Homo sapiens: one gene and its partners. The protein of the gene in region 7 purifies or fractionates together with the protein of the main gene of each other region. This does not show direct contact. Each region holds a gene or a part of one and is shown on either strand. Other genes may lie near its edges. The genes, in order: NAA16, FBXO45, C2CD4B, SPRYD3, CERK, NAA15 and ALPK2.

Evidence for each region.
Region 1: the proteins of ALPK2 (region 7) and NAA16 purify together in Homo sapiens (affinity purification with mass spectrometry; one large-scale study listed by BioGRID and IntAct). This does not show direct contact.
Region 2: the proteins of ALPK2 (region 7) and FBXO45 purify together in Homo sapiens (affinity purification with mass spectrometry; one large-scale study listed by BioGRID and IntAct). This does not show direct contact.
Region 3: the proteins of ALPK2 (region 7) and C2CD4B purify together in Homo sapiens (affinity purification with mass spectrometry; one large-scale study listed by BioGRID and IntAct). This does not show direct contact.
Region 4: the proteins of ALPK2 (region 7) and SPRYD3 purify together in Homo sapiens (affinity purification with mass spectrometry; one large-scale study listed by BioGRID and IntAct). This does not show direct contact.
Region 5: the proteins of ALPK2 (region 7) and CERK purify together in Homo sapiens (affinity purification with mass spectrometry; one large-scale study listed by BioGRID and IntAct). This does not show direct contact.
Region 6: the proteins of ALPK2 (region 7) and NAA15 purify together in Homo sapiens (affinity purification with mass spectrometry; one large-scale study listed by BioGRID and IntAct). This does not show direct contact.

The regions. Positions count from the first base shown.
Region 1 is NC_000013.11:41,317,767-41,321,266, reverse strand, and holds part of NAA16 (N-alpha-acetyltransferase 16, NatA auxiliary subunit), read right to left. Parts: intron 2,462-3,500; coding exon 2,357-2,461; intron 1,415-2,356; exon of another isoform or gene 1,186-1,414; intron 601-1,185; coding exon 443-600; intron 1-442. UniProt on the Homo sapiens protein: Auxillary subunit of the N-terminal acetyltransferase A (NatA) complex which displays alpha (N-terminal) acetyltransferase activity.
Region 2 is NC_000003.12:196,582,160-196,585,659, reverse strand, and holds part of FBXO45 (F-box/SPRY domain-containing protein 1), read right to left. Parts: intron 1,528-3,500; coding exon 1,342-1,527; 3' UTR 1-1,341. UniProt on the Homo sapiens protein: Component of E3 ubiquitin ligase complex consisting of FBXO45, MYCBP2 and SKP1. Functions in substrate recognition but also plays an important role in assembly of the complex.
Region 3 is NC_000015.10:62,163,035-62,166,477, forward strand, and holds C2CD4B (C2 calcium-dependent domain-containing protein 4B), read right to left. Parts: upstream 2,252-3,443; 5' UTR 2,161-2,251; intron 1,991-2,160; 5' UTR 1,951-1,990; coding exon 856-1,950; 3' UTR 501-855; downstream 1-500.
Region 4 is NC_000012.12:53,076,591-53,080,780, forward strand, and holds the start of SPRYD3 (SPRY domain-containing protein 3), read right to left. Parts: upstream 2,801-4,190; 5' UTR 2,744-2,800; coding exon 2,721-2,743; intron 672-2,720; coding exon 525-671; intron 1-524.
Region 5 is NC_000022.11:46,696,753-46,700,252, forward strand, and holds part of CERK (ceramide kinase), read right to left. Parts: intron 2,714-3,500; coding exon 2,561-2,713; intron 1-2,560. UniProt on the Homo sapiens protein: Catalyzes specifically the phosphorylation of ceramide to form ceramide 1-phosphate.
Region 6 is NC_000004.12:139,300,083-139,304,304, forward strand, and holds the start of NAA15 (N-alpha-acetyltransferase 15, NatA auxiliary subunit), read left to right. Parts: upstream 1-1,422; 5' UTR 1,423-1,695; coding exon 1,696-1,749; intron 1,750-2,333; exon of another isoform or gene 2,334-2,469; intron 2,470-4,222. UniProt on the Homo sapiens protein: Auxillary subunit of N-terminal acetyltransferase complexes which display alpha (N-terminal) acetyltransferase (NAT) activity. The NAT activity may be important for vascular, hematopoietic and neuronal growth and development.
Region 7 is NC_000018.10:58,622,592-58,626,091, forward strand, and holds part of ALPK2 (alpha-protein kinase 2), read right to left. Parts: intron 1-3,500.

The DNA of each region.
Region 1 (3,500 bases), on a different chromosome or scaffold from region 7:
GGAGTGCAGTAGCATAATCATGGCTCACTGCAGCCTCAACTCTTAGGTTCAAGGGATCCTCCTGCCTCAACATCCTGGATAGCTGGGACTGCAGGTGTAAACTACCATACCGGGCTAATTTTCTTATTTGTAGAGACGGAGTCTGGCCTATGTTGCCCAGGCTGGTTTCTAACTCCCAGCCTCAAGCGATCCTCCCATCTCAACCTCCCAAACTGCTGGGATTACAGGCGTGGGCCACCACACCCCACCAGTTATTCTTTTTGAATACTCAAGTACAAAGTGCCACAACTATGACTGAGAAGGAAGGTCCCAAGCGACATACACCTTCTAATGAACAATCAAATCTACTTGATTTTGGCTTATGCTCACCTCATTCTGAAATGACACGCTCTTAAATTTTGTCTACTGTAAAATCATGTACATTTAAGAATGAAGTACTTACTCGGTAACCTTCAAGGTCTCTCATTTGGATCTGCAACAGTGAGAGATCCCTCAAAATTTGCAGGTTATCTTTATCTAATTTGAGGGCATTTCGGTAACATTTTATAGCTTCATCATATTTTTTATCAGAACGCTGCAAGAGTCCATATACATGCCAACCTATTAAGTTAAGGAAACAAAGACATACACAGACACTAGAATATTCTATGATACATATCTAATATAAAAGTTACATTAAGGAAATGGTATTTTGCCTGGGATTTGTTCAGAATGATCTGGAGTCTGGGGGAGGGGAATGGTGAGGGGAAGTTAAAGACGAAACCAGAGCAGGCTGGGTTGATAATTGTCAAATTGCTGAACCTGGGTAATGGCCACATGGGAAAGGGGTCATTATTCTGTTCTCTCTACTTGTGTACATGTTTGAAATTTTCTGTAATATTTTAAGTAACCTTAAAGAATTCTTAGCAAAAATTCTTCACATTTTCTACCCTCTATCCCATCACTTTCCTACCCCAGCAACTTCAACATTCACCTATTCTTCATCATGATGTCTTGAAACAGAATATATACAAAAACTGCAACTACTTTTTGAAACAAATTTAGTCAACCAATTCTAAAGTAATGTGTAACTATCACCTACTTCCCTAGTTATATTAAAGGCCACAAAAAATAAGTTGTATTTCTTATAAATTAAAGTATTAGCATATCTTGGAGCCAAAAGCCCCACAAAACTATCATACTTACATGCCCTTCTCTTCACTCTGGGGTAAGCACTGGGATAAAGAAATAAGTATTTAGTAATTTGAGAAAACTCTAAGCTAAATATGTGAAAACACTACTAAGATTATTCGTGTTCAATACCAGTACGTGGCTAAGTGAATTACATGTTAACAAACTAAAATGCAAGGGCAATATGTGAAAAAAAATGCAGATAAACATACAGATAAGCAAAAAAAAAAAAATGAAAATCAATTTCAATGCTCCACCCTTTAAAAAAAAATTTTTTTTTGGCCAGGCATGGTGGCTCACACCTGTAATCCCAGCACTTTGGGAGGCCGAGGAGGGTGGATCACCTGAGGTCAGGAGTTCGAGATCAGCCTGACCAACATGGCGAAACTCCATCTCTACTGAAAGTACAAAAAGTAGCCAGGCATGGTGGCACACACCTGTAGTCCCAGCTACCTGGGAGGCTGAGGTGGGAGAATCGCTTAAACCCAAGAGGTGGAGGTTGCAGTAAGCCTAGATCATGCCACTGCACTCTAGCCTGGGTGACAGAGTGAGACTCCCTCCCCCCAAAAAACAAAAAAAAATTTTTTTTTACACACTGGGATATTACCCAAAGAAAAACACAATTATAAAGATCAAATTAAGTAACAGCTATGTCTCTGTGTTAACAGAAACCAAGCTCAAGAACCAATATCATACTTATATATTAAGTAAAATCTGTTTTAAAATAAGTTTAAGTTTTTCTTCTCAAATGTCTAAAAGAAAGTTTAAGACACACAAATTTTAACATATGATTAACTAAAAGTCAGTATTTGGAATAACAGGAAAGTATTACCCAGTTAATTATGTTTAAGAAAAAAATGGGTTTCAAGTCACAATTACCAAAGTAACTTTTCTCCAACACTAAGCACAACAGAAGTAAGCACATTTTATAGAGATTTCCTTTAAAATATTCCAATAAATAAACACGGGGTAGGGAACAAATGAAACTAATATAGGAGGAGGGGCACAAGCAAAAAAGAAACTAGTATTACAAAATGTTGATAATGATTATAGTTGAGTAATGGATACACAGAGTTCATTAAATTCTCTCTTCTACGTAGGTTTGGAATTTTCATAGTACAAATTTAATTTGAATTAGGAAAAAACTAGCTAAAACATAAACTATTTAACTACTGCAAAAGGATACAGACATGACTCTTGACATCATTACGAAGTCCTTTACGAACAAACTCATAAGCTTCTTCTTTTTTTCCTAAACAGTTCAGTGTTAATCCTTTCATAGCCAAAGTCTCTGAAAAATAATTTTTAAACTCTATTTACAAATGACACAAAATTATTCTCTTATTCTCTTAATAGTACTTTAATAGTTGAGATCTGAAGGATTACTATGGCTCCAATTCATCTTTTTAATCTCACAGTTTGAACTTCTCTCCAAGTAGAAAAAGTAAAACTACATTTAAATATTTACTTAAAGCTTAGCAGCCCAAGTCCTTTTCTGAAATTCCTTAGTTTCAGAGTTGCTAAAATGGTTTCTGCCCTTCACAAGACTCTGTAAAAGTGGTTGATATTATTCTGCTGAAAAAATTAACAAAGCAGGCCAGGTGCAATGGCTCACGCCTGTAATCCCAGCACTCAGGGAGGCTGAGGCGGGTGGATCATCTGAGGTCAAGAGTTCGAGACCAGCCTGGCCAACACAGCAAAACCCCGTCTCTACTAAACAAAAATTAGCTAGGCATGGTGGCATGTGCCTGTAATCCCAGCTACTTGGAAGGCTGAGGCAGGAGCACTGCTTGAACCCAGGAGGCAGAGGTTGCAGTGAGCCAAGATTGTGCCACTGTACTCCAGCCTGGGCAACAAGAGCGAGACTCTGTCTTAAAAAAAAAAAAAAAAATTACAAAGCAGACATGAGTCTTAATGGAATTAAATCTACCATAGCAGTTCCACAGCTCTTACCTAAGGTCAATTCTAATCAATCATCAATCTGATTTACAACCACACAAAAACACTCAATCTACCTTAATAAAGACAAATACATAATTTAAAAATCACTAATCACTTTATTCAATATTGGAACAGACTTCATTTTTGATAGCAAGTTTATTCCAACAAATTATACTTAGGCTAATTAACATCAGTTCACATTTCAACAGCACAACACTGGATGATGGTAGTGGCAACAAAAAACATGTAAGGAAGTTAATAAAAGATGGTTTAGGATGAAATAATTCTCTGAATTATCCACAAGAAGGGAATTACACAAGAAGAATGATTTTCAAACTCTATGGTATTCAGAACATGGTGATCCTGTGGCCCAAACCCCGCTCCAACAC
Region 2 (3,500 bases), on a different chromosome or scaffold from region 7:
AGTGATGAGAAACAAGATTTGTAAGTCAAAATAGGAGTTAATGTTAAACTCTTCTACAACGAAACCTTCAAATATTGCCAACCTGAAGTTTTCAGCACAAGGTGTTGTATTTCAAGTCCCATGGGGGCAATTATCTATAATGAGATTAAGAATATTCTTAACCTGTTTCAGCTGGGTAAGTAAACGTTTTCTTTATAGCCCCAATAACGAGTTTGAGGCTTAGATTAGTTGCATGATGTAAACAATATGAAATTAAAATTTTTTTGATAATATCTACAGCATTTATAAGGTTACAAAATAAAAGGACCATTAATCAATTCTTTTTTTCCTAGGCTCTATGACTAATAGCTTTCATATTTGAGGCCTACAAGAGCAAATGGCAATGTTCTGTGTTATGAGACACTTTCTTAGAAGGCCAAAAATAAAACTGGATACCAAAAGATACACATTACTATTATGTTGAGATCATCCTTACTGATATATGTATAATTAGAAATAGATTTGCCTTCCTTCAATCTTTAGCCAGGAGACTGAGAGATCTTTACTATGATTTTGAGAGTAAAAACAAAAACAAACCAGACTCTAACAGCTATGGGAACTGTAAGCCAAAAATAATACAAAATGAGTCAATACAACACATCTCCTCTTAAAATCCTCTTCTTTGTAGTTAACCCAGTTGTCCCCAAATGTTATTCCAATTTTGTAACCATGTAGTGGTTTTTAAGAAATTAGAACTAGAACAAAACAACCTGTTTGTCCTTTCTTTTTTACAGTTTTTTTTTTTTACACACATATTATATACAACTTTTAAAATAGCTGCACAATTTTATATCTCACTTTTAGAGAAGTGCAGTCCAGGCAGACCATGCTTCTCAATATATTAAAAATATTAAATAAAACCCAACCAGTTTCATACTTTTCTAATAGTCAAGCTGGCTGGAAAAAAAAGGACTGGAGAAAGAACAGGCAGTTGTAAAATGGGATCAGTCTTCACAAACACACTACTTAAAAATCTTGCTATTTCCTTATCCCTTTGACAGCATCTCTACAATCTCACCTTTAAAGCTGGAAATAACACATTGCTAACTTAGAGACAACATCGGGTGCAACATGCATATGTCAACTGCCCACTCAACCAACTGCAACCCTGAGGATTTTTCTGGCCCAGTAGAAAGAGGAAACACGAAGATAATCTCTGCTGTAGAGCTGCTTCTCCAGTTTACGACTTCATGTGTTTTCAGGATGTTTCTTGGACATGCATGTGTGACAGTCACTTCATGGTTCTACTTCCCATAAGCAGATCTCTCCTCCATTCTGTCTGTCATCACAAGAAAGCCACTGTCATCCGTCCAAAGGTTTTCCAAGGTAAACCAAAGTCACTTCTGTGTTGCCATATACAGCAGAAACTGCTGGGTATAAGCAGACCTTTGGAAGTCCTCTAAAAGCAACCCCCAGGAACTCATATCCACGTTCAAAAGCTAAAGTCTTATCTTCCATGTCCAAGATGACTCGAATTCTTTCTCCTATCTGCAAACAGATATCAAAAGGTTAGAAGAAAATCTGCCAAGGGTGTAGCTAGAAGAAACAAGACACAAATCAAGAAGTTGAAAATATTAAGAATATTATCCTGAAAGCTATCTAGAAAAATCAGAAGGGAAGCTTTCTAGTCAGGAAGAAACATCTATAAAAAAAGGACATACATCTGGCCGGGCATAGTGGCTCATGCCTATAATCCCAGCACTTTGGGAGGCTGAGGCGGGCGGATTGCTTGAGCCCAGGAGTTCAAGACCAGCCTGGGCAACATGGTGAAAACCCATCTCTATTAAAAATACAAAAATTAGCTGGGTGTGGTGGCGCAAAGCTGGTATCGCACCACTGCCCACTGCACTCCAGCCTAGGTAACACATCACAAATGCTTACTTTGATAGTTTTGTTTTTAAGACTCACATGGAATCTACACTTAATTACTTACAATTTAAATGTTCCACCTGAACACTACCTAGATTGATTTTATTTACTCTTTGTTTAAAGGTTTTTCTTAAGGTTAACACTAAAATCTATAACTTGGCATATTTTACCAAAAAGAGCAATCTAAATCAGCTTCTCAAATTACTATACTATACATACAACGGAACTTTTTTTTTTTTTTTTTTTGAGACGGAGTCTTGCTCTGTCGCCCAGGCTGGAGTGCAGTGGTGCAATCTCAGCTCACTGCAAGCTCCGCCTCCCGGGTTCATGCCATTCTCCTGCCTCAGCCTCCCCAGTAGCTGGGACTACAGGTGCCCGCCACCACGCCCGGCTAATTTTTTGTATTTTTAGTAGAGACGGGTTTCACCGTGTTAGCCAGGATGGTCTCCATCTCCTGACCTCGTGATCCACCTGCCTCAGCCTCCCAAAGTGCTGGGATTACAGGCATGAGCCATCGCGCCCGGCCGTACAATGGAATATTATTCAGCCATAAACAGAAATGAAATTTTGATATATGCTACAACATAGATAGACCCTGAAAATATTATGCTAAGTGAAATGAGCCAGACACAAAAGGCTAAATGGTATGATTCCACCTATATAAAGTATCTAGAATACTCAAATATATATAGTTGTAGAGCAGAGTTTACCAGGGGTGGGGAGTGAAGGAAATAGGGAATGAACATAATAGAGATTATGTTGGGGTGAGGAAAAAGTTTTGGGTATAGAGAGAGGTGTGTGAATGTATTTAATGCCACTGAATTGTATACTTACAAATGGTTAAAATAATAAATATGTATGTTTCACCACAATTTTAAAAATCACCTTAGTAAGACACACAGCTTTTAAAGTTTACAAAGCAGTTCCACATGTAATGTGGAATCATGAATAATCCAATCTGGCTACAAATTCTAATGTAGAATATAGAATAGGCTTATTAAACAATTTGTGGTTCACAACTCTGAAACACCTGTTTGTTATAAAAAACAGCAGCACTGATTATTAAACGAAACTGGAAGCAGAATATATCCAGTTTTTTCCCATTTGGAAAAGTAAGCAAAAAAAAAAAAAGGATGTTTCATCTTTTTAGTTTGCCTTTATAAAAAGATGTTGCATCTACAAAATTGGAAACAGAAAGTCCTAATGTTTGCAATCAAAATTTAATTCTACCTGATTATAACCCCTACTATTGTCATTTACTTTCCTTCACTGTATTTCCTGTTAACAGTAACTGCCAACATCTGCTTTTTTCCTCCCTTTGCCCACCTCACAGATTAACCCACACCTCATTTTATGGATCTAAGAACCTCCAAATCATCATCACCACCACTCCTACCAACAAAATATTAACAAAGTAGAAATGAAAAGCTAATTTTGTTGGGTATTTGTGTTGTGTCGTATTTGTATTATCCCATTTAATCCTCACACTAATCCTAGGAACTATCCCTATTTTACAGAAGTTGAAACTAAGTAACGATTACTCCTGGTGAAATCTGCAAATCTGCTTCACCTTTGAGCACACAGCACGCACA
Region 3 (3,443 bases), on a different chromosome or scaffold from region 7:
GACTTAGGTTTATTTGTTGAATTAACAAATGAAAATCAATTGGATTTTTAAAAACACTCTCTAGAACCCAGTGTTCAAGAAACTGACTACTTACTTTTTAACTCATCTAGGAAATCCTACCGCAAAGCTAATTAGTGTGTAATTAGATACATAGCTAGGTGAGAAAATGCCACAAAAAGTATCATCTTGTTTACAGAGGCAAGAAAGATTTCTAAGATTTCCTAGGTAAGGAAGAGAGAGACCCCAGGAATAGCTATTCCCTAGATAACCCATCTATTGGAAGGTCCTCCACTTCCCTGTTTTCCTCACCAATTTTTGAAAAACTCACTTCCAAAAGAAAACTTTCTACAAAAAAATTTTCTTCCCACCAGGGTATATACATCCTTATAATACAAGTGTCTCACTCTGATGTGTGCGCGTGCGCAAACACAAATTAGGATATTACCTATGCCGCATCAATATGTAAAGCTGTGTATATGAATCGTAACGTTGGGCATGACTCTGAATGAATAACTTGCTTTATTAAAAAAAAACTGTAACATTGATAGAAAACCGGAAGGAATTAAAAACAATGCAGATGGGTGTACTTCCTTTCTCTCCCAGTCCCAAGCCAACCCATTTTTCCTTGGAATGCAAAAATGGTCTGGAAAGAGATATGGGGGTCCTGTGAACAGAACAGGGAGTCATTATCTTTTTCTTCTTTACCAATAGACGATGACAAATGTGGATGGTGAGGAAGTAAAACGTCAATAAAGCAGTATCATAAATAAAAAAATAAATAACGTTTATTCTGTACCACGCGGCTGTCAGTGTCCGGAGTCTCCAGGGCAGAGCGCCCCGGGGAGGGCTGGGCCCTCAGAGCAGCAGGAGGGCGCCCAGGGACAGCTCACCCTGGCCCAGCAGGCGGCCCCGATCCCGGCCGCGACCCTCATCCCGGGCCTTGACGCGAACGGCCAGGCGGCGCACCTCGTCTTCCGAGAGGCCGTCGAAGCAAAAGTCCTGGTCAAAGGAGGCCTTGCGGCTGCGCCCCACCACAGCGCTGCATTGCCAACGCGCAGTGCCCGGCGGCCGCAGGACGAGGCTGAGGCGGCAGCGGACGGCGCGGGGCCCGGGGGCGCCTCCGAACAGGCTCTCCGCGCGGAGCAGCCGGAGGCGGAGACGCCGGGTTCCCGGACAGTACTCAGCAGCCAGGCGCAGGGCGTCGCCGGCGCGGCCCAGAGCCACGGTGCCCTTGGCCTCCAGGCGCTCAGGAAGCGGGGCCCTGGATGACAGCGGGCTCGAGGAGGGGGCCCGGGCCGGGGACTCGGATCCCGCGCGGCGCTCCTCGTCCTCGTTCCCGCTGGAGACGGAGCGGACGCGGGCCAGGCGGCGACTCCTTCCAGCCCGCAGCGCGCGACTCAGCAGCCCGTCGGGGACGCGCAGGAGGCGGCAGCGGCGGGGCCCCGCAGCGAGCGCGTCCTGGGGCAGGCGGGGACCGCCGGGGGCCGCGGGGGTGGCCGGGCCCGGACCTCGCGGGCCGCACAGGGTCCCCAGGGGGGCGTCCGGGCCTCCGCCGCCGCCGCAGCTGTGGGCCCGGGGCCGGGGCGCGGGCGGGCCCCCGAGCAGGAGCGACTCCTTGCGGCGCGTGTGCGGGCTCTCGAGCAGCGCGCAGAAGCCGTAGGTGGTGCGCACACGGGGCAGGTGCGGCAGTGACAGCGCTGCCTGCGAGCGCGGGTCCCAGTCCGTGCGGCCGGCGTCCTCGTCTGCCGCGCGGGGCCACAGGTCGCTTTCAGCGGCGCAGCGCCGGGGCACGGCGGCGGCCCGGATTGGAGACTCGAGCGTGCAAGGGGCCGGCAGCCGCGGCGGGATGCAGAATTCGGGGATGCGATTCGGCGTGAGCACTTTGGCGAAGGCGGGCTTCGGCGCGGAGCTGCCTGCGGCCGAGGAACAGAGTTTCTCGAGGAGCCGCATCCTTGGAGGCTGGGGCTAGGAGTGGCGGGAAGAGGTGCGCCTGCGGGGGAGAGAAGCTGCTGAGTTTGGGCGCCTGGAGCTGCTGCAGCCCCTCGACGCGGCTGGATCCCTCCCCCAGACCCTGTAAACGTCCCCCACGTGTTTAAGACCCCAGACCAGTTCCAGCCTTCCTCTCCCCTGCACCCACAACAAATCAGCCCCGCTTCAGACCTTTCTCTCTTCTTCAGTGTCTCTGGATCTGGTTGCAAGCTCAGTGCCAGTGGCCTCTAGCCCGCTGCCGAGGCGCCACCTTCAGTACTGCGGCCAGGAGAGTGGCGCTCCCCTCTTATACCGTAGGCTGAGTCCCGCCCAGCCGCCAGCGGCCCAACCCGGAGGTGCTGCACAGCCCGCCTTCCCGCCACCCTCTCCCACGACGCCGGGAGGTCTGCATGCACTGGGCGCTCAGGTCTGCGCGAAGCTGTCGCGGGAGCAGGCACCTTGTGGTCAGCTCTGGGACCCGCATTTGCAGTGAGTGCGTGGAGCCCCAGGCAAGGCCTGGGAAAGGTTGCAGGTGAAGAGAGGGCACCCTGTCGTCCTGCCAAGGAAAAATTGGCGGCTGAAAATGTTTCTGGCTTCTTGGAGAAGGTGAGGCTGGACGAGGAAACAGGAAGTTAATTTGGCTAGGAGATAAACCGTCACTCACCCTGCATGTAACCTGGACGTGACCTGCACGTCCTGGGAGCTTCTGTTTTCCTGTCCCCACGCACTCGCAGCGTGCAGACCAATATGGTTTCCAGTTATTTATATACTTATTTACTGTCTGTCTCCCTCTGCTAGACTGTGCTCTTTTTGATAGCATAGGCCCTGGCTCAGTCCATGCCCTAAGTACTGGTGAAGTGGGTAAATTAATCGTTGAGAAAATTTCTGATCGCTTCTTGGTCTTTTGGCTAAGATCAAGTGGAGAAAGCCTCTGAATGGCTGCAGGCTCTGCCTGTCATCTTGATAGTTACAAAACATGGGGCTTCTGGCTCCTGCCCTAAAATAACACTTGACGTTTTTAAAACTACCCCTTTTTTTTTGCTCTAGCACGGAGGTATCCAGTTAGAAAGCACCTTCCCGAAATATAGATTCCTTCTTTCCACCCCCGACCTTCATTTTCTGAGATGTGAAGACTGAAATCCCAGAGGGACCTGAGGAAATTCCAGAAAGGTTAAAAAGAGCCAGTTAATGGCAGAAGCTGGAACTAGCAATTTCCTGTTTCTTTGGCTTTGCATGTGATGCTTCCTGTGATCTGAAATGCCTTTTCTCTGCTTTTTCTTTATATAGGAATTCCTGTTTATTTTCTGTAATTCAGCCCACGCATCGTCCCTTTCAGGTGCCTTCACCCACCCAGCCGCCGCGGAACTCCCCTGCTCCAGTTCCTCAGTCCCTCCTCATTTCCTTCCTACATCTAGGGGCCACCATTGTTGCGGTTCGCATGCTGCTTTGGAATTTTCGGTTTACAGTTTTGTCTC
Region 4 (4,190 bases), on a different chromosome or scaffold from region 7:
GTGATCCCTTCCCCTACCCAGCTGGATCCCCTCCTTGCTGGATGAGGACAGAGCCACCCAGTGACAGAGGCAGAGGTGAGTGCAGGGTGAAGCAGCACACACTGCTCCACTCAGAAAGGCCTCTGGGCGGGTGGATCACTTGAAGTCAGGAGTTCAAGACCTGCCTGGCCAACATGGTGAAACCCTGTCTCTACCAAAAATATAAAAAATCAGCCGTATGTGGTGGTGCACGCCTGTAATCCCAGCTACTTGGGAAGCTGAGGCAGGAGAATCGCTTGAACCCAGGAGGCGGAGGTTGCAGTGAGCTGAGATCACGCCACTGCACTGTAGCCTGGGTGACAGAGCGAGACTCTGTCTTAAAAAAAAAAAAGAAAAAGAAAGGCCTCTGGAGTCAAGAGCATCGCCCTTCCCTGTGCAGTGCACAGTCCCCTTCTCTGAAAAAATAAAAGTTAAAAAAAAAAAACCCTTTCCTCTCTAAGATCTGGAACAGAGAAGAAAATGTGGAAGCATTCTCCTGAACTCACCTTAAAGTATCTCCATCTACAAGGATATGTTTGAACCTCTCCTGATATCGGAAAGCTCGGACCTCTCGAATCTCCCGGATCCGCCGGCGCCAATTCAGAAACCGGTAGTGCAGGTTGAGGTCATCCATCTTGTTCATGAGAACAAACCTGCCAAGGGGAGAAGGGGATTGAGGAGAAAGCAGGGCCCTAGGTAAAGCACCTCAGCCTCTGTGACCCAGAAGGTAGAGAAGGCACTGGCCTTGAGGCCAGCTGCCCAGATTGACCTCAACAACCCTCATCTTCTTTCTTCCATTCAACAAACATTTACCAAGCACCTACTCTGTGTGCTTTTCTCCGTGCTAGGGATGGAGCTGTGAACAAGATGGACAGGATTCCCATTCTCACAGGCTGGGAGGTGGACACGACAGGCAATAAACAGACATAATTTCAGGCAGTGGAGAAAAGAACAGGGTGATATGATAAAGAATCTGGAGGCAGTGGATAGAGTGGACAGAGGCGGTCTCTCTGAGGAGGTGACATTTGAGTTGAAAAGGAGCTAGGCATGACAAGCCAGGCATATTCCAGGCAGGAAGGGCAGCCACAGGTCCTTGGATGGAAGAGAGCTGGCATGGTAGAGAAACAGAAAAAGGCATGGACAGCTGGTATATAGGGAATGTGAGGGAGAATGTACAAGATGAGAATAAGGCAGGAGTCAGATCATGGCCCTACAGACAATGAAATGGTAAGGACTCTGGATTTTATTCCAAGATGGAAATTTCTGGAGGGTTGTAAGCAAGGAAATGCCATGATTGGCTGGGTATGATGGCTCATGCCTGCAATCCCAGCACCTTGGGAGGCTGAGGCAGGAGGATCGCTTGAGGCCAGGACCCAGACCAGCCTGGGCAACGTAGTGAGACCTCATCTCTACTAAAAATTAAAACAATGAGCCAGGTGTGGCAGCATGCACCTGTAGTCCCAGCTACTAAGGAGACTGAAGATGGCTTGAGTCTGGCAGGTCAAGGCTGCAGTCAGTTCTGATTGTGCCACTACATTCCAGCCTGGCTGACAGAGCAAGACCCTGTCTCAAAAAAAAAAGAAAAAAAAATGCCATGATCCTGGGCCTGGTGGCTCACGTCTGTGATCCCAGCACTTTGGGAGGCCGAAGTGGGAGGATCACAAGGTCAGAAGTTGAAGACCAGCCTGACCAACATGGTGAAACCCCATCTCTACTAAAAATACAAACAAATTAGCCAGGCGTGGTGGTGCGCACCTGTAATCCCAGCTACTCAGGAGGCTGAGGCAAGAGAATTGCTTGAACCTGGGAGGTGGAGTTTGCAGTGAGCCGAGATCGTCCCACTGCACTCCAGCCTGGGTGACAGAAACTCCATCTCAAAAAAAAAAAAAAAAGCCACGATCTTAATCAGTTCCTAAAGATCATTCCAGCTGCTGGTTGGAGAACTGATCACAAGAGGATCAAGAACAGATGTGGGCAAACAATTCAGACGTTGTTGCAGCAGTTCACATGAGAAATGACATCCACTAAGTCGGTAGCAGCGCCGATGGATGGGGGTGGGATGATCCAGGTATTTAAACAACCATCAGTCCCTACATATAAATGAATGAATGATTTTTCCTGGGAGCCAAAAGTGAGAAAGAGGTGAAGTACTCTTCTCTTCCCATTCCCTAAACACTGGGACAGGGGTTTTCTTGAGGCCTGACATTGCCTTGCACACGGTAGGTGCTTAGTAAGCCTTGGCTGGGCTGAATTTGATCCCAATACGCAAATTACGACTCTTATGCAGTAGCTACAACCCACCACGTGGCCCAGAAGAGTAGGCACCTGTGGGACAGACAGCCCTAAGATTCCACTCCCGGGCACTCAGCCAGGACTCAACCCCAGGTAGATGCTGGTTGCGCAGACCCCACAGTCTTGGCACCGGCGAGTGGCGGCCCTACTGGGCCCTGTCTCCTCCCCGGGCACGGCCTGATCACTGAGATGAGACCCGGGAGCAGCCGGGCCCCAGCCCATCCGTGTGCCTACGCCCAGTCTCCCCAGGCCCTGCACTGGGCCGAGGGTGCAGCAACAGAAGAAGCCCAGTGACCAGAGCGCAGGGCCCCGCCCCTGGCCCCAGAGCCCCCGCCCAGGACCCCCGCCTTCCGCTTCAGGCTCCGGGGAGATACGAGGCCTCCGGGACCCCGCCCCCGATCCCCGCCTACCGGGGCCGCCGCGTCCTCCTCATCCATAGGCCTCTCAGCTCCGCACACAAGCTCTTCGGCCGCCGCCACCACACACATCCGGGTCCCCGCCTTTCCTTCACTCCTAGAGGCCCGCCCCGTCCCCCATCTAAGCCAATCAGCAACGGCCTCTGACGACGGGCACCTGCAGGAGCCAATCGGAAGGCGCAGGCAGGGTGTGGGGCGCGGCCCGGTGCCCTGGGTACCCAGCTCAGGGCCCCGGTCTGGTCAACCCGGCTGTTGCTGGGGTGAGCGAAGGCGACGTGGCAGCGCGGACGCTGCTGGGTGCCTGGGCGCCGCTGAGGCGGACAGGGGGCGGCTCTTGAGCGGCGCCGGGGAGACGGGACGGGCGGAGAAGGTGGCCACGCTCGCACAAACGTTGCGAGTATTACTTGAGCCCTCCTTCCGCGCTGGACTGAAATAAAAGCTTTACCGGAATGTCCATTTAATCCACGGTGCAGCCTTATGAAATAAATCTTATCTCCTTTTTACGGATGGGCCGAAGGCTGGCCTCGATAGCCTGCGCGCTTAACTGTTATGCTGTGTACCCTCCCGAGCTCTGTTTCATGGCACCGCTCGCTCATTATTGGCAAGAACATTCCATTCCAGGAGGAGAGAACTGGGGATGCAGAAGGCACAGTGGCACGAAGCGGCATTCTGTGGAGGAACACAGGGCTTTGGTAGGCTGAAGGAAAGTTAGACTGGGGTTAGAATGTGAAGGGACGAAGACACGAATATTTATTGAACACCTACTAGGGAGTGCCTACCTGCCATTCTGGGGGGTTGGACTCCTAGATGAGGACTTCCTTGCTCCCTTCCCATCACCATATCTCTCTCTTCTGGACGGAAAAGATTCCTCTCCTCTGTAGCACCTCATTTATAATACTTTTTTTTTTGAGACGGAGTCTCACTCTGTCGCCCAGGCTGGAGTGCAGTGGCGCGATCTCGGCTCACTGCAAGCTCTGCCTCCTGGGTTCACGCCATTCTCCTGCCTCAGCCTCCCAAGTAGCTGGGACTACAGGCGCCCGCCACCACGCCAAGCTAATTTTTTTTGTATTTTTGGTAGAGACGGGGTTTCACCGTGTTAGCCAGGATGGTCTCGATCTCCTGACCTCTTGATCCGCCCACCTCGGCCTCCCAAAGTGTTGGGATTACAGGCGTGAGCCACCGCCCCCCGCCATTTATAACACTTATTACCGTCTTGCTTTCGTTATTGGAGTTACTTGTGTGTGTAGACCCGTCTCTGCTAGACTGTGAGCTCCTTCAGACCCCAGACTATTCTATTCTTATCACACTAGGTACTCTAACGTGTTGAGTGCCAGGAAAGCCATCAGCTCGCATACCGTGAATAGTGCCCACTCGGCATAACGGCAATGGGTGATAGGAATAGATGAGATGGGAAACAGAGAAACCCGGATTAGAGCCCCAATTCTGTGTGACTAAAAGGTCAAG
Region 5 (3,500 bases), on a different chromosome or scaffold from region 7:
CCGGAAGGCGTCTCCTGCCTCGGGGCTCTCATCCTGGTGGGAGGGACAGAGCTGCAGCCACTGCCTGTGGTGATGGGCTGAGGGCAAAGGGGGGGGCCAGGCATGCAGGGGGGCTGCCCACCACCCCACCCCAGCAGGCAGGGACAGGGAGGGGGCATCCCAGGGGCATTCTAGGCAGAGCCACACTGGGCTCAACAAAGGGCAGTCGGGAGAATGGCACAACCCAAACCGCTTCCTAAAATTCTCGCGGCTTCTCTAATTTTCTCGGTATTCCCTTTCTTAATAAGCCTTAGATAAATACCTCACTTTGCCATTTCTTAGGTTTTAATTTTCAAGCCACACTAGTTTTTAATTTCATTAAATCTTTTCAAGCTTCGTAAAGTTTGCCAAATCACTATTTCTTTCTCTCATAAGGGTTAAGATTTTAGTATCAGGAATTACTCGATTTAATTTGATACAGATTTATCTGAAAGCGAACTGTAAAGAGGCGGGAAAGTCGACCGGGCAGCGAGAATGGCACACCTCATGGTCTACATATTTTCTTCTTTCTTTCTTTTCTTTTTTTTTTGAGACAGGGTCTGGCTGTCGCTCCAGCTGCAGTGCAGTGGCCTGATCTCTGCTCACTGCAGCCTCCACCTTCTGTGCTCAAGGGCTCCTCCTGCCTCAGCATCCCGAGTAACTGGGGTGCCCGGCTAATTTTGTTTTTAATTTCTGTGGAGATGGGGTCTCCCTATGTCGCCCAGGCTGAAATTCTACTTTTCTTTTTTTTTGAGACAGAGGTCTCGCTCTGTTGCCCAGGCTGAAGTGCAGTGGCACGATCTCAGCTCACTGCAGCCTCTGCCTCCCGGGTTCAAGCAATTCTCCTGCCTCAGCCCCCCGAGGAGCTGTGACTATAGGTGTGCACCACCATGCCTGACTTATTTTGTATTTTTAGTAGAGACAGGGTTTCACCATGTTGGCGAGGCTGGTCTTGAACTCCTGACCTCAGGTGATCCACCTGCCTTGACCTCCCAAAGTGCTGGGATTACAGGCGTGAGCCACTGCCCCTGGCCAATTCTATGTATTTTTAAAGTTCTCCTTTTCCAGCGTTTAAAAGCTGGTGACGTCGCACCCACTGCCTGATGTGTGCAGACTGCAACTCTTGTGTCTGAACTGGCACCAGCCTTCATTTCTGGTTCATTCTAAACTCTGTGGTCGGGTAACAGGTCACCGCCGCCTGGCCCGAGGCCCCAGCAGCAGCCCCGGGAGCCTGGAGGACCTGCATGTTCCGAAGCCCACCCAGACCTGCCGTGTTGGATGCTCTGGGGGGTCCCCGCAGCCTGGGTTCTACCAAGCCCTCCAGAGGATGCAGGTGCCCACCACAGTCTGAGGACCACTGGGCTCAAGAAAGAGTGAGGCAGGATGCGGGCAACCTCTTTGTGCCTGTTTTCTCCGCTATAAAGTGGGGCAGGAGCACCTGCTGGGGTGAGAAGAGCACTGTGGAGAATGAAAGCTTTTGGGCTTCAGGGAGTGCGGCGTGGCATTCGCTCCCACTCCTCCTCCTCTGTGCCCACTGCGGCCGAGCCGCAGGAAGGCAGGATCTTGCCTGTTTTGTTCATGGACACGTCCCTGCCTCAAAAACCAGGCCCGGCATAGAGCAGGGGCTCAACAAATACGTGCTGAGTGTATCTCACTTGTATGGCTAGCTACGGTGTAACCCCAACAAAACCACGCAACCTTGTTGAATGAAGTAAAGGATACCTGTGCCTGAAGTTACAGAAGAGCTTCCACACAGATATCCCAGGCTGAATTTCTGCACAAAGTTCTTGCCACTTTGACTAATAAGCTCAGAGTGATTATAAAACTATTGTTTTACAGGCCAGGCATGGTTGCTCATGGTTGTAATCCCAGCACTTTGGGAGGCCGAGGTGGGCAGATTGCTTGAGCTCAGGAGTTTGAGACCAGCCTGGGCAACAGGGCAAAACCCTTTGTCTACAAAAATATACAAAAAAAAAAAAAATTAGCTGGTCACGGTGGCATGTGCCTGTAGTCCCAGCTACTCGGGAGGCTGAGGTGGGAGAATCACTTGAGCCTGGGAGGTCAAGGCTGCAGTGAACCGTGATCGTGCTACTGCACTCCAGCCTGAGTGACGGAGGAAGACTGTGTCTCAAAAAAATTTTTAAAAAATATATTTTAAAAACTATTTTTTTTCCAATTAATACTTCCACTTGAACAGTTTGGGGTGGCCTCTGTCACCTGCCTACCAGATGTGAGAGGCTGGTGGCCTGGCGTCTTGGGGTTCCAGCACCTGGGGTTCTGGAGTGAACTGCGTCCGTCATGGTGTCTACTCTGTGGCTTATGCTTGGGTCCAGGGGGCAGGATCTGGTTTAGAGCAATCCAGGTTCCAGTCCAGACCCTGCCACGTTCTGGCCCCGGCACATTTCATGAGGCCCTTAGCTTCCCGTCTGTGAGCAGGTGGGGGCCCACCTCTGACGGTGCTCAGTGGATTCAGTCAGGTAACATCTGTGAAGGCAGTCGGGGCACGACCAGCGGGGAGCGAGTCTGCATTATTCTGAGTTACCTGAAAAGTCGTATCTGGCAAGACCCAACCACCGTTTCTTCTCACTGTCCTTGATGATGTCCCCGTAGAAGCCGTAGCCCAGCAGGGACACGGAGTAGCGAAGGAGTGTGCTGTTGTGGTGGACTGAGGACACATCCATGGCCAGCGAGTCCCCTGTGGGAGAGAACGGCCGTGAGGGAAGGCAGCCCCCCTCCAGCCCCGCCCCATCCACTCCATCCCCTTCAATAGCACTTTGCAAACGTGGGAGTTACTTTTAAAAAGTGTGAAACAAACAGAACGCATTCAGTGCAAGGATTCTCTCTCTTGGGGTGTTGGATGCCATATTTTTTATTCAAATGACTGAACTCCACTCAAATTTCTAAAACAGGCTCGGGGAGCTATCCTGTGGGGACTGAACAAGAGTGTATCCGTGAGGCTCATGAAATATCTTTAACTGAAAGGACGGTGGTTTTAGAATGAAGAAAAAGTACATGGCATTTTAAAATACAAAATCAAGCCGAGTGCAGTGGTTCACGCCTGTAATCCCAGCACGTGGGGAGGCCGAGGCGGGCAGATCACCTGAGGTCAGGAATTTGAGACCAGGCTGGCCAGAATGGTGAAACCTTGTCTCTACTAAACATATAAAAATTAGCCAGGCATGGTGGCGTGTGCCTGAAATCCCAGCTAGTGGCGAGGCTCAGGCAGGAGAATCGCTTGAACCCGGGAGGCGGAGGTTGCAGTGAGCCGAGATCATACCACTGTACTCCAGCCTGGGCCACACACAGAGTGAGACTCTGTTTCAAAAAAAATAAAATAGGCCAGGTGCGGTGGCCCGCGCCTGTAAGTAACCCCAGCACTTTGGGAGGCTGAGGTGGGTGGATCACCTGAGGTCAGGAGTTCGAGACCAGCCTGGTCAACATGGTGAAACCCCGTCTCTACTAAAAATACAAAATGAGCTGGG
Region 6 (4,222 bases), on a different chromosome or scaffold from region 7:
TTACTAAGTAACAGCTTAAAAATGAATTATAAGCTTGTTCTTAGTTTTATAAAGTTAAGGTTAAAATACTGGCCATATTTCAAACTGAAACATAGTTTCCTGTATATATGATTTTTCTCAAACTTTTGAAGAGAGATCACAGAATTTAAGGAAACTCCAGGATTTGACTGTTAAAAACCTTATTTATGACCCCGGTGAAGGGCGAGGACAATCAATATAGCAGCTACAAAACCCAAGTTTATATTGGGAAACATGTATCTCAACTCACACCTTTCAGGGACAGTTAAGAGAAGTTTGAAAATTAAAATATCTTTGCAAATAAATTTAAAACAGTAAAAAACACGCACATATTGTTTAATAATTCATGATGCAAAGAATGCTACAGAGTGAAATCAGGATTTGGAAAGAGGTAATCAAAAACCAAAGGTTAAAAGTGGCTCATATAACTTGAAAATTTTTAGATCAATGGAATGCCACTTTGAAAAAGTTTTACGGTCAGCTGTTAATGAAATGACTTACATTTTTGGAAGGACTCCTATTCGGTATGTAGTCTGACCTCGCCTACTCGAGTAGTTCCCTCTAGTATCCTTGCCAGTCTTTGGCTTCTAAGATCTGAGAATTTCTGGGGATGGGGAGTTCGAGTCACAATATTAAGAACTAGTTTGAAGCCAGCTCCAGGGTAGTCTGTCTTTAAGTCTCCACTACTCCGCTCCAAGGTGACTCATAAGGTCGGTCCGTCAACTCTGCATTATATGGCCTCAACAACGAAATTAAAACACATACTTTAACCTCCAGAGCCTCCTTTGGCAGTGCAAATATGTCACTTCGGATCTGACTAACTACCTTTCCAGGCTGATCTTAAGCAACATTCACCAAATTACCGATACGACAGCCAGGCCCATTTCATCGGTCAAGCTCTTTCACGATTTCCAGACTCTGTTAAGCCCCTTTCTCCCCAGGGCTGTTAACAAGTCTCCACTGCGGTGAAGCTTTTTTCATTTTCCACTCCGCCTCTGCTCCTTAAATTAGGCATTTCGTCCATAATCAACTACAGCGCTTCTCAAACACCTACACCTGTATTTTAGCACTTTGGGCTCAAACGATGATCACACAGTGTGCGAGACTCTTTCCAAGGAATGAAAGGTCGATCTAGCAGGAAGGCGCCAGAGAGGCTGTTTTTGATGAGGAGGCGGTCTGAACCGTACTTGCCTAGCCTCCCGTAGCTCCGCGGGCGCTTCGAGGGTACCACGCACTGAAATGATGGGCGGGGCCTGCCCCGACCCTCCCGGCCTCCACAGGCAGGCCAGCCTCCAGGTTTCCCGGCAAGCTCCGAAACCCAGAGGAGGTGGGGAAAGGAGGTCACCGCGCCTGCGTGTTAGGAAGCGTGACCCGGGTGGGAAAACCCTCCGCGTCCGCCATTTTGGCTGCCTCTGTCGGTCTGTTCAGTTACCACGTGAACCGCCGACGGAGACCCGTAGTGGGGGAGGCGGCGGCAGCGTTAAGTGAGAAAGGAAAAAAGACAACGAGGAAAAAGGAGGTGTCCGGGTAGGGCAACGCGGCGACACCCGAGGCCTGGTGGTGGCGGCGGATCGAGATATTCAAGGCTGAAGCAGCTACGGAACGGCAGCGGCGGCGGTCGGACAAACTGACTGACCGAGCCGGGTGGTGGCGGGAGCAGCGGGAGCAGCCGGAACGATGCCGGCCGTGAGCCTCCCGCCCAAGGAGAATGCGCTCTTCAAGCGGATCTTGGTAAGTGTGAGGCTCCGGGCAAGCGGTGGGGAGGATTTAGCCGGTAACCGGGCCTGTCACCCCTAACCTCGGCCCGGCGGGCACTGAGCCACTCCCGCCCGGGACCCCGCCTTCATAGCTCTCGTCAGGCCGAATGCATTGCTTTGCTCCCTCTCTGTGGTTCCTACTATGGCCCGCGCGCCAGGGACCACAGGCTTCTTCATTCCATCCCCACGCTTGAGGCCCTGGTTCCGGACTAGGCCCCGACCTCCCGGCTTCTAGACTGCCGGTTCTCATTCTCCCCGATCTGGGGGAGAAGAGGCCCGGCCTTTGGCGGGCAAGTGGGCGACACCGGCAGGAGTCGCGGCCCGGTTGGTGTGGGAACCCTGCTGGCAGGTCGGGGTGGCACCCTTGGAAGGAACAGGTGGTGCGGATGCAGCAGGCTCATTCATTGCCTAAACGCGGTTCTCCCTCCATCATCTGTCCCTCCCTCTTCCTCCTCTCTTGGGATTCACCTGTCTCCGCCCGGCCCGGGGTCACCCAATGACCTGAGAGGAGGGAAAGAAGGAGTTCAGAGAAGGAAAGAAAGCTTTTCAAACGACTACCTCCTTGTAGTCAGTTGCATACTGGAGTCTTCAGCTCCTCTGCCTCCGTTGTTCTCGTTTCTGGAGTAGGGATGAGGCATTTATTTCTTAGTTTCCGAGCGGGAAACAGCCCCACCCCGTCACTCTTCTCGGGAGGTGGGGCCCATTGCGAGGGGGCGGTTCGGTAGGAAGTAAAAAGTTGAGTCTTTAGTTGAAACGTTGCAGACCTAGACTTTTCTTATACACTGAAGTATATTAACACATGCAAAAACTTACCAGAGAAATGAGAATATAAGAACTTTTGAGATGGATTTTGTTGACGCTAGCTCAGACTTATTCCCTACGGTTCAAATGTGTGCAGTTTGTATTTTTTTAAACCATAAATGCATTGATGTTTGCAGGGACTGTTTACATTGTAAAATATGTCCTGTAGCCTTGGAGCTATAATTAACACATTGTAGCACATTTTTTGTTTGGCATTTAGTATGTGGGTTCCCCCTTTCACGCAAACGTTTCCTTATGATAGAATTAACTGTATTTGCCAAATTTAAGACTTTTAAAATTTGGGATGTGTGTGTGAAAGTGTTAGCCTTTTCCCCCGCAGTTATAATTTATTTCACCTGTTTGAAAAGTAGAACAACTCTGGGGATTCAGTTTTTCTAGAAATGAATAATCATCCATTTGAACTAACTTTGATTTTACAAAAGTGTCCATATGCCCTACAGATTTAGTGAATTCATTTTGAAAAACATTAGAAAGTCACATGCAGTGTCGCAAAACTGTTACCTTGAAATTCTTACTGGAATTTTGTTTTGTTTTAAGACTAAGAGTGTAGGTGGAGCTGTAAAATAGTTTTAGGAAAAAAGTTACTTTTAAACCCTTAAAAAGACTAATTGGTGTGCAGGTAGAACTGTAACATAAGTTTAGAATAGCAATTTATCTTTAATCTCTTTTTCACAATTCTTTATTTTGAAAAAAATGAAACTGAAAAGTTGAGAGAACAAGGAACACTCATAAACCTTTACTTATATTTATTTGCCATATATGCTTTCTCTCTCCCTATGTATATGTATATATACATTTGTATAAAAGTAAGTTGTAGATGTAAAATTTATCTCTAGGCTGGGCACGGTGTCTCATGCCTGTAATCCCAGCACTTTGGGAGGCTGAGGCAGATGGATCACTTGAGGTCAGGAGTTCGAGACCAGGCTGGCCAACGTAGTGAAATCCTGTCTCTACTGAAAATACAAAAATTAGTCAGGCATGGTGGTGTTCGCCTGTAGTCCCAGCTACTAGGGTGGCTGAGGCACAAGAATCGCTTGAACCCGGGAGGTGGAGGTTGCAGTTCCAGCCTTGGCAACAGAGGAAGACTGTCTCAAAACAAAAACAAAAAACTTCATCTCTAAATACTTAAGCAAGCATCTCCTAAGAATAAGGACATCGTCTTGTATACTTATAACAATCATTCTCTAATATTGTCTAATATCTGGTTCATATGGAGATTTTCTCAAGTGTTAGCACTTTTTTTTGTTTGTTTGTTTGAGACGGAGTCTCGCTCTGTCGCCCAGGCTGGAATGCAGTGGCGCGATCTCGGCTCACTGCAAGCTCCGCCTCCTGGGTTGACGCCATTCTCCTGCCTTAGCCTCCCAAGTAGCTGGGACTACAGGTGCCCGCCACCACGCCTGGCTAATTTTTTGTATTTTTTAGTAGAGACGGGGTTTCACCATGTTAGCCAGGATGGTCTCAATCTCCTGACCTAGTGATCCGCCCGCCTCGGCCTTCCGAAGTGCTGCTATTACAGGCGTCAGCCACCGCACCCGGCCAAGTGTTAGCACTTTTTAAATAAATCAAACTTTTAATTTTGAGAAGACTGTAATAATCACGTAGTTTAAGGAATAATACAGTGCACT
Region 7 (3,500 bases):
TAAACATACAAAGTGTGACAGTGCTGTAATCGGACCCACTTCCTTGAGTTAACTGATTAAAATCACTTTGGTTTGAAGTTGAATGTCATGGGCCGACTGCTCTGTCCAGTCTAGGAATGTGTCGTCAATGTCATCACAAACATTTCACAGTAAAGAAAGCCCCTCTCTGGCTCGTTTTCCTCTTATCCTCCACATTTGCCCAGGCTCCTTATGTTCCCACCCTCACTCCCCTGTAATGAAAACTCCAAAGCCGCTCCAACTAATCCCTCTTGGGAGAATGTTTACTTTCAATGTGACCAAGAGGTGAAATGCTGTGGAATTTCTGGCATCAGACAATATAGGGGAGAACCTGGAAAATCTTAGGCTATCTTCTGTCTCACTCCCCGCCCCCCGACAGAAATAAGACCAACCCTGAGTGTAGTTAACTGAGCCCGAGTGTAGTTAACTGAGCTAGAACTTATTATGCTGAACTAACCACCTGTCAGCAAGTCCAGTCAGAAAAAAGCAGTGGTGTGAGGACAGGGAAGTTTCGCAGGAGAGTGGTAGTCTGATCTCTGCCACCTTCTACCCTCATCCTTCAACCCAGCCAGTCAGAGTGTCTTAGGGGAACACTTTTCATATAATGCCTCCACTTGCCTTATTTCCAGAAGATTTTTTTTTAATAGAGATGGGGTCCCACTATGTTGCCCAGGCTGTTCTCATACTCCTGGGCTCAAGCAATCCCCCCACCCACCTCAGACTCCCAATACAGAAGATTTTTAATGGTTCTTTATCTAATCTTGTTCTAGTAAATAAAGTGTGCCTTAGAGATAAGGAACATCACATCCAATAAAAAGGGCCGTAGGGTGCAGTACTGCAGCCAACGGTTCATTCCATTTCTTTTTATTTCTTTTGAGATAGGGTCTCCCTCTTTCACCCCGCTGGAGTGCATTGGTACAATCTCGGCTCACTGCAACCCCTGCCTCCTGGGCTCAAGCAATCCTCCCTCCTCAGCCTCCTGAGTAGCTGGAATTACAGGCATGCACCACCATGCCTAGCTAATTTTTGTATTTTTAGTAGAGACAGAGTTTTGCCATGTTGGCCAGGCTGGTCTCAAACTCCTGACCTCAAGTGATCCTCCCATCTCGGCCTCCCAAAATTCTGGGATTACAGGCGGCTCACGCCACCGTGCCTGGCTGGTTCATTCCATTTCTGAGGCAGGACTGTTCTGTGGAAGAACATTTTAACTTGTCTGGGCTGAACTTTAAAGCATGCCCATCCTAATTTTTTTTTAAATTTTTTCTGGCTTACCTTTAGCAGTAATATCCTAAATCTTTAAAGTATAAATGCTCCCCATGGCTAACTTTATAACTAAGGGAAGAAGTGGTAAGATTTCAGAGACCTTTCTCCAAAATATCTAAAATCTCCTAAAGTGGCCATTCGCTTGTCCTCCTAATCAAGCCTCTTCCATCACTCAGCAGCCTGGGGACTCGGCTGGCGATTCCTCACCCTTCCTGCTTTGTTGGCTCTGATTGGTCTAAACTGTGGTGCTCTTGGTCACTGATTGAGTCATTAACCAAAGTTTAAGCCAATCACATGTGGCACTCTCCAAAAAGTAGTTCAGGGGTGACCAAGTCAGTGCAAAGCTTAGGTTGTTCACTCCGTCATCCACAGAAAAAGGAAAGCATGTGAACCTCAGCGAAGGCCAATAGCTATCTTGAGACCGTGCTAAAGCTGGCCTGATAAAACCAAAACAGAGATGAGCAGAGCTTCCAGAAATGCAGGAAACAGCAGGGTCCTGACCAAAGTCCTGGACTCTTCCATGGTATGAGCAATAAATCCCTGTTACTGATTTAGGTAGTTTGAGTTGATTTCTTTCTTTTTTTTTTTTTTTTCTTTTTGAGACAGAGTTTCACTCTTGTTGCCCAGGCTGGAGTGCAATGGCACGATTTCGGGTCACTGCAACCTCTGCCTCCCGGGTTCAAGCGATTCTCCTGCCTCAGCCTCTCAAGTGGCTGGGATTACAGGCGTGTGCCAGCATGCCCAGCTAATTTTGTATTTTCAGTAGAGGCAGGGTTTCACCATGTTGGCCAAGCTGGTCTCAAAGTCCCGACCTCAAGTGATCCACCCACCTTGGCCTCCCAAAATGCTGGAATTAACAGGCATGAGCCACCAAGCCCAGCCAAGTTGATTTCTTTGTTGCTTCTAGAAGGCATACCCTCTCCTCATTGGCCCACAGTGCCTGAAATTCCTATCATTTGGCTCTCCATTCCAGATCTCTATGTTGGACATCAAGTTACAATCAAGTTACCGACAGAAGTAATGGATTGAAGATTAAATGATTTAATCAAAACCATCTAACTCTTGACAATTCTTTCATCATCAAGAAGGCGGGGGAGGAGAAGTGTGAAAAGCGTAGCCCAACCACACTAATTTCTGATTTCCATATTCATTCTTTCTCTTTCTGCCCTCCATGTTTTTAGTTTGCTTTTCTGGATTTCCTTTACATAGAAGGACCACTTTCCATCTCAATCTGTTCAGAAACCCCGCCAGGTTTTCAAACCCCTAGCTCAAATGCTGGTTTCTCTTTGAAGGCTTCCCTGATACCCTCAGCTGAAAAAAAAAAAAAGCCCCCTAAAAACTAGAGACCATTAGCCTCAGCATATTGTCCCCACACTCAGTGTCACCCCCAGCAGCTAGACTGTAAACTGCTTGCCTGCAGGGCACCTGATGGGTTAACCTTTTATGTTTACAGCACTGGCACACTGTATCTGTGTCTCTGGCACCCCCTGAGAAGTAAGGAAAGTTTGGTGGTTGAAAAGAATAAGCACAAATAGGTTTTCTTCAGGAACTGCAGGCCGAAGAAATGGCTACAGCAGTGGTTCTCAGAGTGGCCCCTGGGCCACGCCATCAGCATCACCTGGGAACAAGGAAGAAATGCAAATTCTTGGAAACTTCAGAATCAGAAACTCTGGGGATGGAGCCCAGGAACCTTTATTTTAACAAGCTCTTTAGATTCTGTTGCACTTGAAAGTTTAAGAACCGCTGGACTCAGGAAGGTCTTAAACTAGGGGTTGAGGAGCAAATGAGCGTGTTTAAGAGCAGGGGCCTGGTTATCTAAGAGCAGGATTGAAAATCAAGTGAAAATCAAGGTGGGCTGTGCAGCCAGGACATGAGGATTGCAGTGGAAGGGCTGGCCCTTGAGAGGGAGGGTGCAGTGTAACCAGAACTGAACTCTCGGAATTGAGCTTCTCTTCAACTTGCTGCCTGTCTCTTCGAGCTGATGTCTGAAGTCTCCTGATCAGTTTTGTCTATTTGGCCCATGCCAGGTGGGTGTGCATAGGCGGAAATCCCAATAAGGGCTTGAAACATGTTTAAATGTTTTATTTGATGTAGGTCAGGTGTTTATTCTTTCGTTTTCGCCAACCCTAAGATGACGTGATTACGTTCTCCCAAGTTGCTTTACATGTTTGCATTTTCAGTTTTTCTTTTTGGCAGCATTCAACCCAGAGTAACGTATC